Linked DNA regions of Homo sapiens: region 2 is linked to region 1. A link means that fine-mapping ties the variant in region 1 to the expression of a gene that starts in the linked region. Tissue or cell type: whole blood. Region 1 holds a variant in brackets; the other region holds the start of a gene. All regions are shown on one strand. Distances are from middle to middle.

What was found. PIP is the estimated chance that this variant, and not a neighbour inherited with it, causes the effect.
Region 2: it holds the start of SEC23B, and the variant in region 1 is fine-mapped to the expression of SEC23B in whole blood (TOPMed, PIP 0.99).

Annotation. Positions count from the first base shown.
Region 1 is chr20:18,542,038-18,550,242 of GRCh38, reverse strand. It overlaps SEC23B (SEC23 homolog B, COPII component), which reads right to left. Exons shown (of 20, transcript NM_006363.6): 13 at 7,841-7,947; 14 at 7,071-7,224; 15 at 4,210-4,287; 16 at 1,473-1,634. Among named protein-coding and RNA genes, the nearest start is that of SMIM26, 21 kb to the left of the region's middle. The variant G/A (reference allele first, on the strand shown) is at 4,832.
Region 2 is chr20:18,502,833-18,511,037 of GRCh38, reverse strand. It overlaps SEC23B (SEC23 homolog B, COPII component), which reads right to left and starts at 3,098. Exons shown (of 20, transcript NM_006363.6): 1 at 3,066-3,098; 2 at 1-216. The coding sequence starts at 202. It also overlaps the pseudogene RPS19P1. RefSeq lists enhancers at 2,828-2,877, 3,228-3,557.

The DNA.
Region 1 (8,205 bases):
GCGGAGGTTGCAGTGAGCCAAGATCGCACAACTGTACTCCAACCTGGGTGACAGACACCCCATCTCAAAAAAAAATACGTTTATTATTTATTTGTAAGTAATATTTTATATTATATAAGTATATAATTTATATTTATATATACATATATAATCATATACATATATATTTATATACATAGTTCTTATATATACATATATAATTTATTATATTTACATATACACATATAATTTTTATATATGTAATTATTTCTTTTTTATTTTTATTTTTTGAGAGGGAGTCTTGCTCTGTTGCCCAGGCTGGAATGCAGTGGCGCGATCTCAACTCACTGCAGCCTCCGCCTCCGGGGTTCAAGTGATTCTCCAGCCTCAGCCTCCCAAGTAGCTGGGATTATTGGCGCCATTCCAAGCTAATTTTTGTATGTTTAGTAGAGATGGGGTTTCGCCACATTGGCCAGGCTGGTCTCAAACTCCTGATGTCATGTGATCCCCCTGCTATTTTAGTAATTATTTCAATAATAAAAGTAAGTGGTACTCGATAAAGAAAATTTTTAAATGTGTACCCAAGTACAACAAATATTGATATTTTGTTTTTTTCCATATAGTTCTTTATTTTTGCAGGGAATATTTAGAAACGTTTCTATTTTGACTTTTTTTCATGTAACATTTTTACATAAGGACTTATCTATTTTATTATGTTACATACTTTTTGTGAATACTGTTGGCCCTCCGTATCGGTGGGTTCCACATCTATAAATTCAACCAATCTTGGACTGAAAATATTTGAAAAAAATATGCATCTGTACTGTACATGTACAGACTTGTTTTCTTGTCATTATTCCCTAAACCATACAGTATGACAATTATTTACATGGTACTTACATTATATTAGGTATTATAACTAATCTAGAGATGATTTAAAGTATATAGGAGGATGTGCCAAGGTTACATGCAAATATTATGTAATTTTATATTAGTAACTTGAGTATCTAAGAATTCTGGTATCTGAGGGAGGTCCTGGAACCAATCTTCCATGAATACTGAGGGTCAACTGCATTTCTCAGGTTACTTATTTATTTTCCTATATTAAACATTCGGATTGTTATTTGATCCTCTATTATAGTAGTTCCTTTACTATTTTTTTTTTTGGCACAAAGTCTACTCTGTATCTAGGAGTCTTTCCTTCAGATACAAGACATGGAATTGTTGGATGTAAGTATACAAGCACAAGGAAAAAGAAAGCATCCAAGTTATTTCCTAGAGTTTTTTACATTTATTCCTGCCTTTCACAAATAATAGCTTTATATGTCCTTTGACATTTTCCTAAAGGTATTTTTTAATAGAAATAATGTTAAATTACTATAAAAACTCCAAATTTTACTTCTTTTTTACAGTTCTGCTAAGTAAATTTGCTTAAAAAAGAATATATGTTAGGTGATTCCAATCCTCAGGAAAGCATTTGGGTAGAGCCTCACCTCTGGTGGCCCATGAAAGGAGTAAGAGTAGAGAATGGGCTGGATCATGATGAGGGACTGGGTCAGGTCCTGCCGGGCAAAATGATGTCTGTAATATGACGACTCATCAGGACTGTTGTTAAACACTTGAAGAAATGGAGATCTTCTCAGATGGAACATAAACTGCATTCACAAAGAACGGAAAGAGAAATGCATATAATTGTAACCTTCTTAGACACCCACAGAGTAGATCTACCTCAGGGCTCTGAAATAGGAGAACCCAGAAAAGGGCTCTCTGGTTTCACAGAACAGAAAGCATAAGGGGGCACCAGGGGCTAGGGAAAGAGGAAAACTGAGAGTTGTTGCTTAATGAGCACAGAGTTTCAGCTCTGCAAAGTGAAAAATTCTAGACATCAGTTGCTCAATAATGGGAATACACGTAACACTACTCAACGGTATGCTTAAAAATGGTTAAGATGGTAAATTTTGTTATGTGTGTTTTACCACATTAAAAATTAATTTTTTTTTTTAAAGGGCCTTTGGCCAGGCGTGGTGGCTCACGCCTGTAATCCCAGCACTTTGGGAGGCCGAGGCGGGCGGATCACCTGAGGTCGGGAGTTCAAGACCAGCCTGACCAACATGGAGAAACCCCGTCTCTACTAAAAATCCAAAATTACCCGGGTGTGGTGGTGGGCGCCTGTAATCCCAGCTACTCAGGAGGCTGAGGCAGGAAAATCACTTGAACCCAGTAGGGGGAGGTTGCGGTGAGCTGAGATCAGGCCATTGCACTCCAGCCTGGGCAACAAGAGCAAAACTCCGTCTCAAAAAAATTAAAAATTAAAAATTTTTAAAAAAATACAAAATTTTTTTAAGAAAAGGGCCTCTGGGTATGTCAAAGCTTCCACAGTTAAGAGGAAAGCCAAAGAAATGTTTATTTCCAGAGTCACTGTGCCAGGCAGTGGAGACAGAATATCTGCTCTCAGAAGTCAGGCCCAGTGAGAAAGGCACACTCGGGCTACGAGTTATGAGCCAGAGTACAGGATAGCAGTGGGGAGTGGGGGTGGAGGGCCAGGAGGAGACTTCCTAGAGCTCCGGGGACTGACAGTGCACCCTGAGAGACGTGGCTGAGGAGGCCACAGGGCCAGGGGGAAGGGGATTCCAGGCACAGGAACAGCAGATGACAGCTCAGGACACAAGCTGGGATGGTGAAGTGTTGGTGCAGGGGAGAAAGGGACAAGGGATGACACTGCAACCATAGGTTCTCGCCCTCGAGGATGAGAAGAAGGGGTGGGGGCAGACTTTCAGCTCACATTAAAGAGTTGCCAGAACACGAAAATGAGCTGCCTTGTGAAGTGTAAAGCTTCCTGAGACTCCAAATATTCAATCATAGGTTCCTAAATAATAATCAAGGCTGACATCTAATACATCCTACATGCAAGTCACAAAGCACTTGACAAGAACTATTTAATCCTTCCAATAAGCCCATGAGGTAAGTTCTCTTACCATCCCTAGTTTACAGGTGAGGAAACTGAGGCACAGAGGGGCGAGCAACTTGTCCAAGGTCACCCCACTACTGAGTGTCACAGCTGGACTCTACACCTGGCCGCCTGGCTCTAGAGACTGGGCTGTTGGCCTCTTTCCTAGAATGCCTTGACAGAAGGAATCTGAGAAAGCATTTCATCTGGTTTTCAAGCTGTGCTCTTAGAGTCTTCATCAAGTCCTCAGGGGCCCAGGGATGAGGGCTCTGGTGGGACCCAGTGTGGGGGTGGTACACAGGCACAACCAGAGAAGCACCAACTCTGTCTGCTTTATGTGCTGGCTTTTAAGGGCAGCTCCTCTCAAAGAAAGGATTCCATGGCTTTAAAAAAAAAAAAAAAAAAAAAAAAAACTGCAAACCACTTCACCAGACCAACTCCCCACTGCTAGAGGTGGGAAACCAAACTCTACGGGGCTTTGGAACCTCCTCTAAGGTCAGCCCCTGCGGAGCCAGCACTGGAACCTCAACCTGACTCTGGCCGGTCCAGGGCTCTTCTCACAACACCACACAGCTTTAACCTCTGGCACATGGACACCTCAGAGTCCCAGGCACCTGCTATGGAGCTAGGTCACATTTAGTGCTGAACAGGTTACTGGCATTGTGCTAAATATTTAATACTCAGTTGGCCTCAGCTCCTGTAATCCTTATAGACACCCATGAATTGTGCTCTATTTCCTAAGTTACAATGGAGACGGAAATTCATCTACTTCTCCTGCTCCTCTCTCTTGTCCAATGGCTTCCAAAGGCTTGGTTCATGCAGAGTGCAGTTACTTTCAGGAGCTGCTTATTGCTCACTCCTGGTTATGATGCACATAATAACCACAGACATATTATTAAATATTTGTTGTACTAACTGTGGTTTTGTTTTGTTATCTTCATCTCCATGTGTGCTCATTTTCTTGGTTTGTTGCTGAGGTAGCTGTTTCCCCAGAACTTCTACACATGAGAGATATTTTTTACGGCCTTATATCAATGATCCTATTTTGCCTGTTCATGAAAATGTATGCATGAGTTTTCTCCCCTCTGCATGTCATCTCTATCTTCTGTAGGGCGTAGGGTGCTGTCTTGCCTAGACACATATTCGACTTGGGTTGAACAATCTCTGTCACCTACAGACTGAGTCTCAACACATTAAAAAGTCTTCACTTTACCCTAAGAATAAAGTTAATTTCTATCAAAATTTATTGCTCTGTAGTTATTTTAGAAACATACATTACTTACCTGAGGATATAGAGAAAAGGAATCTGATAACCTAAAAGAAGTGGGGTCTTCTTTGTTATACTGTCCAAACTTTTGACACTATGGAAAGAAAATACCAAAAAACAAACAAACACACACAAAAAGAGAGAGAAAAATCTAAGTTAGCATTACCTGGAAATATTCCTGGACTAAGCTACATCCAGTCTGAACTCTGCCACTTACTATAAGTCCTAGACTAGCACTTCTCAAGCATCAGTGAGCAGGCAAATGACCAGGGGATCTTGTTAAAATGCAGACTCTAGGGAGGAGCTGAAGATTCTGCATCTCTAATCAGCTCTCAGGCAATGCTGGCCTGAGGACTGCCCTAACCAGAGAAGCTAGGTGAGCTCTTCCAGGCACCTGTTCCATATGAAAACCCTCTAACACCATGAAAACTAACAATTATAGTTACGCTTTGATGTTCTCTCACACTAAAACTCAAATTTATTTCTCCCAATGGCAGACTTCTGAACCACAATGTTTTCTCTTCCCGCCTTTATTTCTGCTCACACATTTCTGGTCACTAAAGAATTGGACTGTTCATCATTTAAAGAAACCCCATTTCTAACAATTACTTTCTTCCCACAAAATCTGGTGTCCTTCC[G/A]CAGTTCTCGTCTTCTTGAACTTCCTAGCAGCATGAGCCAGGTGACTGCCCAAATGTCTCGAAACTTTCTCCTTCAGCTGCTAATACATCACTTTCCTATTTCTCATAATCTCTCCAACCAACCCTTTTCTGCCTTCTTCAATGGTTTTGTCTTCCTCCTCCCCCTAACTGTGGACTCCTTGGGGGTTAGTTCTTGGCCCCCTCCTCCCATCCTCACTGCTTTGGGTACAAATGAACACTAGAGCCAGATGGGTGTCATCCAAATCCACCCTCCAGTGTCCAGTGCTGACCTATAGCCTGAGCCCCAGTCAGGACATCCACCCAAATATGGGAGTTTTCGTGAGACACACTTTTGCAAGTTCACATTCAATTATCAAAAATTATCAAAAATAAACTATTACATTAAAAAAAGAGAAAAAACTTTCTCCCACCCTAAAGTTGCTCTCCTTTCCCATCTTCTACCTCAACACCACTCATGCAGTTACCCATGTGTGAAATGTCATTCAGTGCTGACTTTTTGGTTTTTGACTTTACACAGAATCATTTCATCAAGTTTTATCAATTCTTTCAGTTTACATCCTGATTTCAAACCTTCTGCTTCCTCCATCTCTCCTGCCACTATGCTGGTCTCAGTGCCATTGAGCCTGAAAAATCCTCCATTCACAACAATAGCCTTTTCTCTCTGCAATGTGCCTCACATGGTGATATTAAATGTAAACACAAGCATCATGCTGACATCAAACCCCCGCTTAACAATCACAGCCACGTCTCCCTTGCTCCCTAAAGTTAAGGAGCTCCCCAATCAAGGTGTACCTTCCCTGACTCTGTTCCCCACTGCACAACCTAGCCTCCTGTGACACTGGTTTCTCCAAAGTCCTCAGCATAAGCTAAAAGACCCAGCTAGCTCCTGCAGGCTCATTCCTGCTAGCCCTCCACTCAGCAAGCCTTGCCTTCCCTTCTCCAATTAATTCTGTAATAAAAACCTGACTCAAGGCTCATTTCCACAGGAAGTCTTTGTTAGCCACCTGGGCCCTCTGCTTATCTATCCTCCCTCTGAAATCCTAAAGAAGCAATTTTCAAATTATGTTTGAAATGTTGACACTTCCTGAAAAATGGTTCCATGAGATGGCAAGGGCAAATAGAGGGCTGAACAAAATGAAACAGGTTTCCCTACTGGGCCTTTCCATGGTGGCTTTGATCACAAACACATGCTGTGACTCTCCAGGAAGGTAAGATTATCATGTGCCAATTATTGATTTATTGCCTTGTGCTGGCTCCAAACTCACCCCCTTTGCCTGCTGTGAAATGGACATGGGCCCTTTCACTACCTCTCCTTTGCCAGCTGGCACGATATCAAGCGTTGTCAGTAGAGAGTGCTGGAGGTGAGCGTCAGCTTTGGGCGCCCGAGTGCTCATTCAGCAGCTTCCCGGGTGCCAGGTCCTGCTGCACCGTGGCTCCCCAGTGCTGAGCTCCTGGAGAACATGGCAGCCAGCAGCTAAGCAGCATCCCTGCATGTCTCCAGTGAGACATTTTCCTATACACAGCTTTCCCTGGCACCCTGGAGGGTGGATTTTCTTCAAATTCTAGAAAGTGAATTTCTAGTAAGTTCCCCTGGCACAGCACCACGGTAACTTCTCTGCAAAAGACTCACCAAGCCATGGCCATGCCCTCCCAACTAGGTCTGGATCAGCCCTGGGGAGAAGGGCACTTCCTTTGGTGCTCTATCTCAGCCCCACAAGTAGTGGCTGCCCACTTCTCTATACTTCCTTCTAGCCAGTCCCTCACTGTTCTACTCTCTTGTTGTATTCTTTATAAAAGACTTTCCCCATTTAAATTACAGTGTGACTTCTCTCATCTCATTAAATCCAGACTGATAAAAGGCATCTCCCTAAACTTACCAGGCTGGATCCCTATTTCCAAAACCACTTTCCAGATTTAGAAGAAAAATACAAGACCAGAGCATTCACAAAATGACTCATCTAAGTCAACTCAACCCACACAGATTTGTATCACTCTCCAAATGCTCCATGCGTGTTGTTTCTTCCCAACTATAATGTAAATCTCTGAGGGGAAAATGCACATTTAACACGTCTTTAACAGAATGTCCAGCGTGCAGCATAAGGTAGGCAACTGATAAATTCTTGCTGATTCACTATATAATAATAATTAAGTGACAATTTTCTTCTCGAAAGTAAAGCAGAAACCAAGACTGAACCTAATGCCACTGTCCCCAATTTACCAGTCGGATGAGTTGTCGGTCCAGCCACCGGAGCACATCGGGCCCCTCCTCTGACTCCGCTCGGAACACCCCAAGCCGTGCCATCAACACTGCCGCAGCCTCCTGGTCAAATGCTGCTTCTATGTGCCTGAGCTGACTCTGTACATCTGCCCAACTGACAATTCCAGAGTTAGTGCCATGCTTATGTTTAGGAGAGATCAGAAAGCCAGACATCCATTCAGAAAAAGAAACACAGGCTAGGTGCAGTGGCTCATTCCTGAAATCCCAACACTTTGGGAGGGCAAGGTGGCAGGACTGCTTGAGCCTAGAAGTTCAAGACCAGCCTGGGCAACAATGTGAGATCACCATCTCTCTGCATAAAAGTAAAAAGATTAGCTAGTTTTGGTGGCAGGTGCCTGTGGTCCCAGCTACCTGGGAGGCTGAAGTGGGAGGATCACTTGAGCATGGGAGGTTGAGGCTGTGGTGAGCTGTGATTGTGCCACTGTACTCCAGCTTGGGCAACAGAGCGAGACTGTCTCCAGATGATAATAATAATAATTAATACTTTTAATGAACTATATTTCCTACAGAAAGATGATTCCTCTAGGCAAGTGTTCATAGGCCCAACTGGGTTAGCCAAAAATGCCTCCTCCTCTGATCAAATAAGCTAATGAGGTCTGGTGAGAACCATTCAATGGAATCAAAAAGACAAACTAACAAATGTTAAAGTATCTCTTCAAGGGAAAAATGTCAGTCAGTTCCTCAACAGAAAGGAAACTGGGGCTGCTTACTTTCGGGCGATGGTGGTCACGCGGATGCGTCTCTGGGTGCTGGAGTGCTGATAATGCGTGACAAACTGGATGGCTCCTCTGCCTCCTTGGGGGATCGGGGTGTTGTGCTGTAGGATGAGAGGCCATAACCTTGTCTGTTATAGGCGCAACTCAAACACGGTCACAGAGCCCACTGTACTCTTCTAAAATGACTGACACAGCAATGACAGGAAGGTTCTTGACACATTTTGAAGGGCACACTTAGGATTTGCACATTTCACTGCATATAACCTTATCTCCAAAAAAGTTGAAGAACTACGTTCAATACTGAACTTAAGTTAATGATACACCTACTGAAGTGTTTAGGCATGAAATACATGGATGAC
Region 2 (8,205 bases), 39 kb after region 1:
CTTTACAAGTTGGCCTGCTGCAAAGCACAGGTTCATATTGTACAGGAGGTAGGTCTGGACGTTCTTTCAAAGGAGTAAGGAGACAAGCCAGGGGTACAACCATTCTTGTAGCCTCCAGCCGGCTGGAAGGCCACACGTTCCAACTAAAACGCACACCATCCCGTTCTTCATTCTGCTGGATGAACTCCAGGTATGTCGCCATAGTCTAAAAGGGAACTGAAGATAAAACTTTAATTACCTTAATGGTATGTGAAATTCTGAACTAAATGTCAAAAAAAGAAGATGGGTCATGTAACACAGTGTTTCTCTTTTTTTCCCATCTCAGCTCACTGCAGCCTCCACCTCCCGGGTTCAAGCGATTCTCCTGCCACAGCCTCCCAAGTAGCTGGGATTACAAGCCTGTGCCACCAAGCCCGGCTAATTTTTTGTATTTTTAGTAGAGGCAGGGTTTCACCATGTTGGCCAGGCTGGTCTCAAACTCCTGACCTCAGGTGATCCACCCGCCTTGGCCTTCCAAAGTGCTGGGATTACAGGCGTGACCCACTGTACCCGGCCCAACTAACACAGTGTTTCTTAAATACTTGGGAAGAACCTGTTGCTGTAGAATGACAGTATTTCTTTTCCATCTGATACCCAAAAGTCAGTTAACCGCACAGTTATCATTGATCACTGCTCCTTTCTCACCTCTCCTTTCAAGCACTTAAAAATAAATCAAAGGAGTGGGAGGTTTACAATCACCTGATCATCTCCAAACTACATGTAGTTAAACACTACTACTTCAAACCTCCTCACAGATCACACGTCCTATCAGTCAAGCCAATTTCAGCCCCTTGCTCAAGGGTAAGTCTTGAACCCTGTTTCGGCATCCAACTATCTTCCTCTCTAATCTCCTTCCTTTCTTCCTCTATTAAATTTTACATTCCAAGTGATTTTTTTTTCAGTAGCGGGGGGGTGCTCATTCCCTTCCGCACTTTGTTAACTTTGGAGAAAAGAGCTGGATACTGATCTTCAAGTTTGGTTCATAATGGGAACCAGTTTTGAGCTAAATTATTTCTACTTGGTATTACCAAAATTACTATTATGCTGAGTCTCACCAGAACCTCTTTCCTCACCACGGTTGCTTATGTTCATGCCTTGACAGGCTGTGGTCAAGGCCAGGTGTGGTGGCTCACACCTATACTCGCAGCACTTTGGGAGGCTGAGATGGGCGGATCACGAGGTCAGGAGTTCAAGACCAGCCTGGCCAACACAGTGAAACTCCGTCTCTACTAAAAATACAAAAATTAGCCAGGTGTGGTGGCACGTGCCCATAGTCCCAGCTACTCAGGAGGTTGAGGCAGGAGAATCGTCTGAACTCGGGAGGCAGAGATTGCAGTGAGGCGAGACAATGCCATTGCACAGCCTGGGCGACAGAGCCAGACTCTGTTTCAAAAAAAAAATGAAGACTGTGGTCAGTAAAACTGTCCTACAGGCTAAACTCTCAAACCCAGATGATCCCAACTTCATTGAGTATTTATACATCCTGTTCATATCCTAAAATCTAGGGTAACACACAACTCAGCTATTGGGGTTCAAGGGAACAAGCCCCTCAAGAAAAGTAGTAAAAAGGCAAATTAAAGAGTCTATCAAATTAAAGTGGCCTCTCGCGCCCACTTCCTGAATATGGATAACAACTGTCTGTTATTTTGGGAAGTACCATACTGTAAATAATTTTGATTAAGGCAATAATATTGCATGGCTAGAAAAGCAAATGAATTACTCTACTACATAAAGCCCAGAACACAAGAATTCCAATGTTTGCTCCAACTGAAACTCTAAGAAATCTGTTTATTTCTGGCAACGGCAAGAACCTGAAGCACTGTGTGCACAGGAAGCACTCTGGAGCTTCATGGGAAGCAAAGGGATAACTAAAGTCGGAATGAAAGCAAGTTCTATCACAACTCTCAGCAAGTATGTCAGCAGATTTCATTAAATAACCGTCTCTCTCTCAAAACGTTCTTTATTAAAAGGCACTGGCGGCCGGGCGCGGTGGCTCACGCCTGTAATCCCAGCACTTTGGGCGACCGAGGCCGGTGGATGACCTGAGGTCAGGAATTCAAGACCAGCCTGGCCAACATGGCAAAACCCCGTCTCTACTAAAAATACAAAAATTAGCTGGGCGTGGTGGCAGGTGCCTGTAATCCCAGCTACTCGGGAGGCTGCGGCAGGGAGGACTGCTTGACCTTGGGAGGCATTGGTTGCAGTGAGCCGAGATCACGCCACTGCACTCCAGCCTGGGCGACAGAGCGAGACTCCATCTCAAAAAAAAAAAAAAAAAAAAAGAAGCTACTGCCTCCATCTAATGGTTTCCAAGCATGTACAGCCTAAGACCTGCTCCCTCCTTTTCCTACTGCCTGTTTCCCTCACCCTTCTAGGGTCTGGATTCTTAGCAGTGGACACATAATCCAAGGGGACTATAGAAGGTCCACTAATCATCTGAAGTTATGCGCATGAGGGAATATGCCGTTTTTCTAGGGAGATGGGTCCATAGCTTTTACCAAAGTATCGGGGAAGGTATCTGAAGAGGTAAATAACTGAAAGTATGAATTAGTGAATGAATGAAAGGCCTGGAAAGATAACAGGAGAATATGCCAAAAAATCTGAACCACCCTTATCGCGCCAACTCGTAACTTCTCAGGACACAGTGACCATGTGTATGTAAGAATAAGTGAGGTTTAATCCTTGAAGGGAGTCCAAGGACCTGGGTTCCAGTTCCAGCTGTCATGAAGCAAAAGTCGTTTCACTTGTCTGAGTCTTGAGTTTCTCAACTATAAAACGGGACTTGGGTCCTTCCAGGTGTGCGCACTCCGCAATTCTGGGGAAACTGGAGCCAGAAATCGGTCCCGGCCTGGTGCGGGACGACATCCGCAGGGGACTCCCGGATCATCCATTCCCCCGCTACCCTAAACTGTCAAGAAAAGGCCTCCTCCCAGAAGCCGCTCACCTCGCCCCCGGCAGAAACTCATACCCGTGCCCTCGGCCCTCCGTCACCTATGCGCCCCGCTCACCTGGCCGGAGCCGCTCACCTAGCTAGAGCCGTCCTCACCCACAGCTGCAACAAGCAGGCTCCGGCTCCCACCGCCAAGTCCAGCTCAGCTCTCAACCGATTGGCCAGCGCCCCAGCGCGTCATGCCACGGCGCTGTCCACTGGCCAATCAAAGAGCGCTTCTCCGACGGACTGGAGGAAGCGAGAGACTCAGAGAAGCTCTGCCACCATCTTGGAACAGGGCAAGACAGGTGTATGTCGCACTTCAAAACGAGAGTTCCTCGGAACACGTTTCCCCACCCCTAAACGTTTCTGTTTCAGAAAACCCCGGCGCCTGCCGCACCGTTGCCTAAGCGCAGCCAGCGCTCCTCAGAGGTTCGCCCTGATACAATATGACATCCGCTCGTCTCAGTGGGAAGTCCCGCTGATCGCCTTAGCTACCGGAAAGCGAGAACGATGACGTATGCTCGCGGAACAGGGAGCTGCACTGGTTGGAAGAAACTAAGGCTGCCGGAAGAAGGCATTAGCATGCGGAAGGGGCGGGGCGGGTGGTGAGCGCGGCGGCGCTTACGCACTTGCTGGTTTGGGAGTCGGTCTCTGTGGTTAAGTTTGAAGTACAGAGGTGTGGTGGTGCTTCACGTTACAAGCTCTCCTACCGTCGCTTGCTGTAATGTCTTGGCGCTCTCAGCGGAGGCTGGCACTAGCGCACAGTCCCTGTCATCCTTCTACATGGAGATAAATAATTGAGAACTGTAATATTCAACCATTTTAGGAGAGTAAGCTTAGAAATACATGGAACATAACTTTCTTTTAAAAAATAATTCCAACGTTTAGATTTAGGGGGTACACTGCGTATTTGTTACCTGGCTATGAGGTTTCGAATTCGAATGAGCTGGTCACCCAGATACTGAGCATAGTACCCAAGTTTTTCAGCCCCTCCCTGCCTCCCTCCCCACTCTAGTAGTCCCCAGCGTCTATTAATGTCACCTTTGTGTCCATGTGTGCCCAATGCTTAGCTCCCACTTTCAAGTGAGAACATGTATTTGGTTTTCTGCTTCTGCGTTAATTCTTTTAGGATCATGGCCTCCAGATGCATCCATGTTGCTGCAAAAGGCGCGATAGAACACAACTGTATAAAGCCACCACAACCATTTTTACACACGCTGACAAGTGGCAAACATGAACACATCATTACTGTGACTCAGAGTTGTAGTCTCTGTAGCATATAAAAATAAGCAAAACGATGTAAACATAAAATTATGCAAGAACATATCTAGGCATCCAAGAAGTATCCATTAATTAGCTCAATTTAATACTAAGTTTTAAGTTATCTACAGATCATAGAAATTATTAATAGTTTAAGGCACAAAGAAACAATTACTGTTAAATGTGAGAATGATTCAGTTTTGTTGAACAAATTCACATTTTTCAGGATCTTAAACAATGTAATGTTAATATTAGCTTATCAATAGTAAACTTTTATAAATTTAGGAAGTTCAGATTAATTATTCTCGGTAAGGAAACAAACTCAAAATGTACACATGTATAATACTTAACACTGAGAAAAGACATAGCTGGGATTTTTTTTAACCAAAACTTAATATTATTCGCCAAAGATTTGCCTTGATTATTTGAACCTGGATTCTTTCTGTACTAGCAATTTCTGTAAGAAAGATTGTTATAGGACCATCAGGTTCGATTGTCCATTGTGCGGTAACAGAAAGAATAGGAGTTGCAGCAGATAAAGAGTTCCATAATCAAGTGGCAGCCAAATGAGGAGACAAGAGCAATCCTCAAATCCACCTCCCCAAGAGATTAGAGATGGCATTTTTAAGAAGTCTGGAGGGGCAATGGGCTAAAGTGTGGGGATTTCTGATTGGTCAGGAAGTGAGAGGTGAAGTCATGGGACAGGGAGATGAAGAAACTTCATTCCAGTGTTGTTTCTTGGTGGAGGTCTTTATTTATTTATTTAAAAAAATTTTTTTTTTGTAAAGCAGGGTCTCACTTTGTTGCCCAGGCTAGTCTCAAACTCCGGGCTTCAGGCGATCCTCTCACCTTGGCCTCCCAAAGTGCTAAGATTACAGGCGTGAGCCACTGTGCCCTTCCTGGTGGGGATCCCTAGACAGTTTGGCATCAGCTGTTTTGTGGGAATTCAGGATCTGAAAAATACCTTAAGCAATTCCTGGGTACAAAGAGCTAGTGTCAGAGATTCTGTGGATAGGAGCAATCAGGGAGTAGGTGATCAGTGTGCTGCAAGGCTTTTGGTTAGTTAGCAGCTGCAGGGAAGTGAATTGAAGGGCACCAATGCACCCTGGTCAGTGCCTAACTAACCTGCCTAAAGGCTGGCTTGTAATCTTGTTAACCCTGTCAGGATGGTTTCAGCATTTTTAAGAAATTTTGCATGCATAAGTTTAATTTACTTATTTTCTGGAATTTTAGAAATAATTGATTTACATGTGTTTGTTTCCATAAGTGAATTATAACAGAGCTCCTTTAAGACATGAAATAATATAACTTATTAAAACTTTACAAAGGTAGTAAGATTTTTTTACTCCCACAACAAGAGGGGAAGGCCTTTGTTGATTACAGCCGGGAAGACACATAGACACATAGCATATAGCTTTGGTTCTGCAACTTTGGCCACAGGTCGAAAGTAAATTCAGAAACATAAAAATTCAGTGGACTAGATAACAAAAAGCTGTTCTCCTTCCCAATGGGCATGGAAGTCTTAACTGATTTGAACTCATAAGTAGACAAAAAGGCAAACAAACAAAAAGACTAACAAACCAGATTTTTCATCATCTCTTATCCAAAAGAGAATAGATCTCTAAAAACTATTAATTCACTTAAAGAGATCACCAAATGTTCAGAATGTAAAACCTAGTTCCTAATTTTTTTTTTTTTTTCTGAATGAGGCAATGTATTAACCCAGCATGGTTTGTTCCAATGCTTCTTGTTGGCAGCTGCCACCTGTCCGGCAATTCTGCCCAGATCTCTCTGTCCCTGAGGTGTCAGTTTGCGGCCCCCATCTTGGTCCTTTTCCACCATTTTCAGCCCCTCCAGGGCTTGGAGGACCCGGCGGAGGACACTCTTGAAGCCTCGGCCGAAGTGGCTGGGCATGACGCCGTTTCTCTGACGTCCCCATAGATCTTGGTCATGGAGCCAACCCCAGCGCCACCCTGGAGGTACAGGTGCCGCGCTGTGGAACCGGCTCGTGTGTAGAACCAGTTCTCAACGTAGGGAGGAAGCTCTTTGTGCTTGGCCAGCTTGACGGTGTCCACCCATTCGGGGACTTTCAGCTTCCCGGACTTTTTGAGAAAGGCTGCCAGAGCTCTGACGAAGTCCCGCTGGTTCACGTGGTTTACAGGAACTCCAGGCATCGTGCGGCTTCCGCGCTGCCAGCCAGGGGAAAGGGAGCAACGGGGTTTCCCGCGAGTTCCTAATTGGTGTCGCCATTCATGGGGAAAAATCCGCCAGCTGTGGGCGAATCAGAAACAAAACCCAAAATCAGTAAGGAGGAGAAAGAAACCTAGGGAGAAAGTCAGCAACGCTGTAGTACTATTGCTACTTGGTATTCACTCCCGGAGCCAGGAAAAAATGTGCTTGGGCTTAGCCCCATGGGGTGTTCTTCAGTAATGTGGTTTACCTGGTTCTGTCAGGTGAATCCATTGGGATGTTGGTGAAAGCTTCAAAACTGTTAAAGTGTTTCAAAAGGTAAAATTATGGCCTTCATGCAAATATAAAATGAACATGTGCCAAAGATCTTACTTAACTCATTCATTGATTTTAATTAATCCCTACGACCAGGAGGGATGTTCAGACTGGTTCTAAGGAGAATTTGATTTATAGTGACATATTCTCTATCACACAAAATTGATTTGCATTGCTGTGGACAGGAATAGTTTTCATTGTTGTGGGCAGGGAACATTTGCATTACTATCTTCTATAAGTTAATTTCTATCTCTACAGAGTTGTAAAATAGCATACTCAAAGGCAGAGGTACATCCCTCCTACGGCAAATGACCCAGGGGATTTTTTGTTTTTGAAACGAAGTCTCGCTCTGTCGCCAGGCTGGAGTGCAGTGGCGCGATCTCAGTTCACTGCAACCTCCACATCCCGGCTTCAAGCGATTCTCCTGCCTCAGCCTCCCGAGTAGCTGGGACTATAGGTGCACACGACCATGCCTAGCTAATTTTTGTAATTTTAGTAGAGACAGGGTTTCACCATGTTGCCCAGAATGGTCTCGATCTCTTGACCTCATGATCTGCCCGCCTCGGCCTCCCAAAGTGCTGGGATTACAGGCATGAGCCACCACTCCCGGCCCCCAGAGAGTCTTTTAAAAATGCACAGCACTCCACAGAAAGTTCACCCAGTAACCTCTTTTGACTATTTCAAAATCTTTCATAATTTTTCTGACATATTATCATCATCTGTAGCCTGAGTCTAAATTCTTTTATTTATTTTATTTTATTATTATTATTTTGAGATGGAGTCTCTCTCTGTTGCCCAAGCTGGAGTGCAGTGGCACGATCTTGGCTCACTGCAACCTCTGCCCCTGGGTTCAAGCGATTCTCCTGCCTCAGTCTCGTGAGTGGCTGGGATTACAGGCGCAGGCCACCACACCTGGCTAATTTTTGTGTTTTTAGTAGGGGTTTCGCCATGTTGGCCAGGCCGGTGTCGAACTCCTGACCTCAGGTGATCTGCCCACCTCGGCCTCCCAAAGTGCTGGGATTACAGGTGTGAGCCACCACGCTCAGCCTAAATTCTGTATTTCTGGGTCAGACTTTTCTACCTAACATCCGATTCAAATATTCAGCAACCTGCTGGGTTCTTCAAAGTGTGTTTACTGTGCACTGGTTACCAATTCAGTTCACTGCATCTTGGGCTGTACTTCTACTACCTGCCCGAGTCTGGTGAGCCAGAACACTCACATACACAAGTTACATGAAGTGGATTTATTACTCACAGAGAAGCAGCAAGGGACAGCAGAAACCTAGGATTCAACATGAGCTGGTCTCTCAAGACTCAGGAAAGCCACACGGTGCAGATCGAGTCTCGTCTGTGCATGCCCACTTGTATTCTAGCTGGGAAAAGCCGTAAAAGCATTGAAGGACATCTTGTTTTTAGTGAGGCTAGAACACAGCCTGGGCTGTTCTGGCTATTTCCTCCTTATCTCAGAA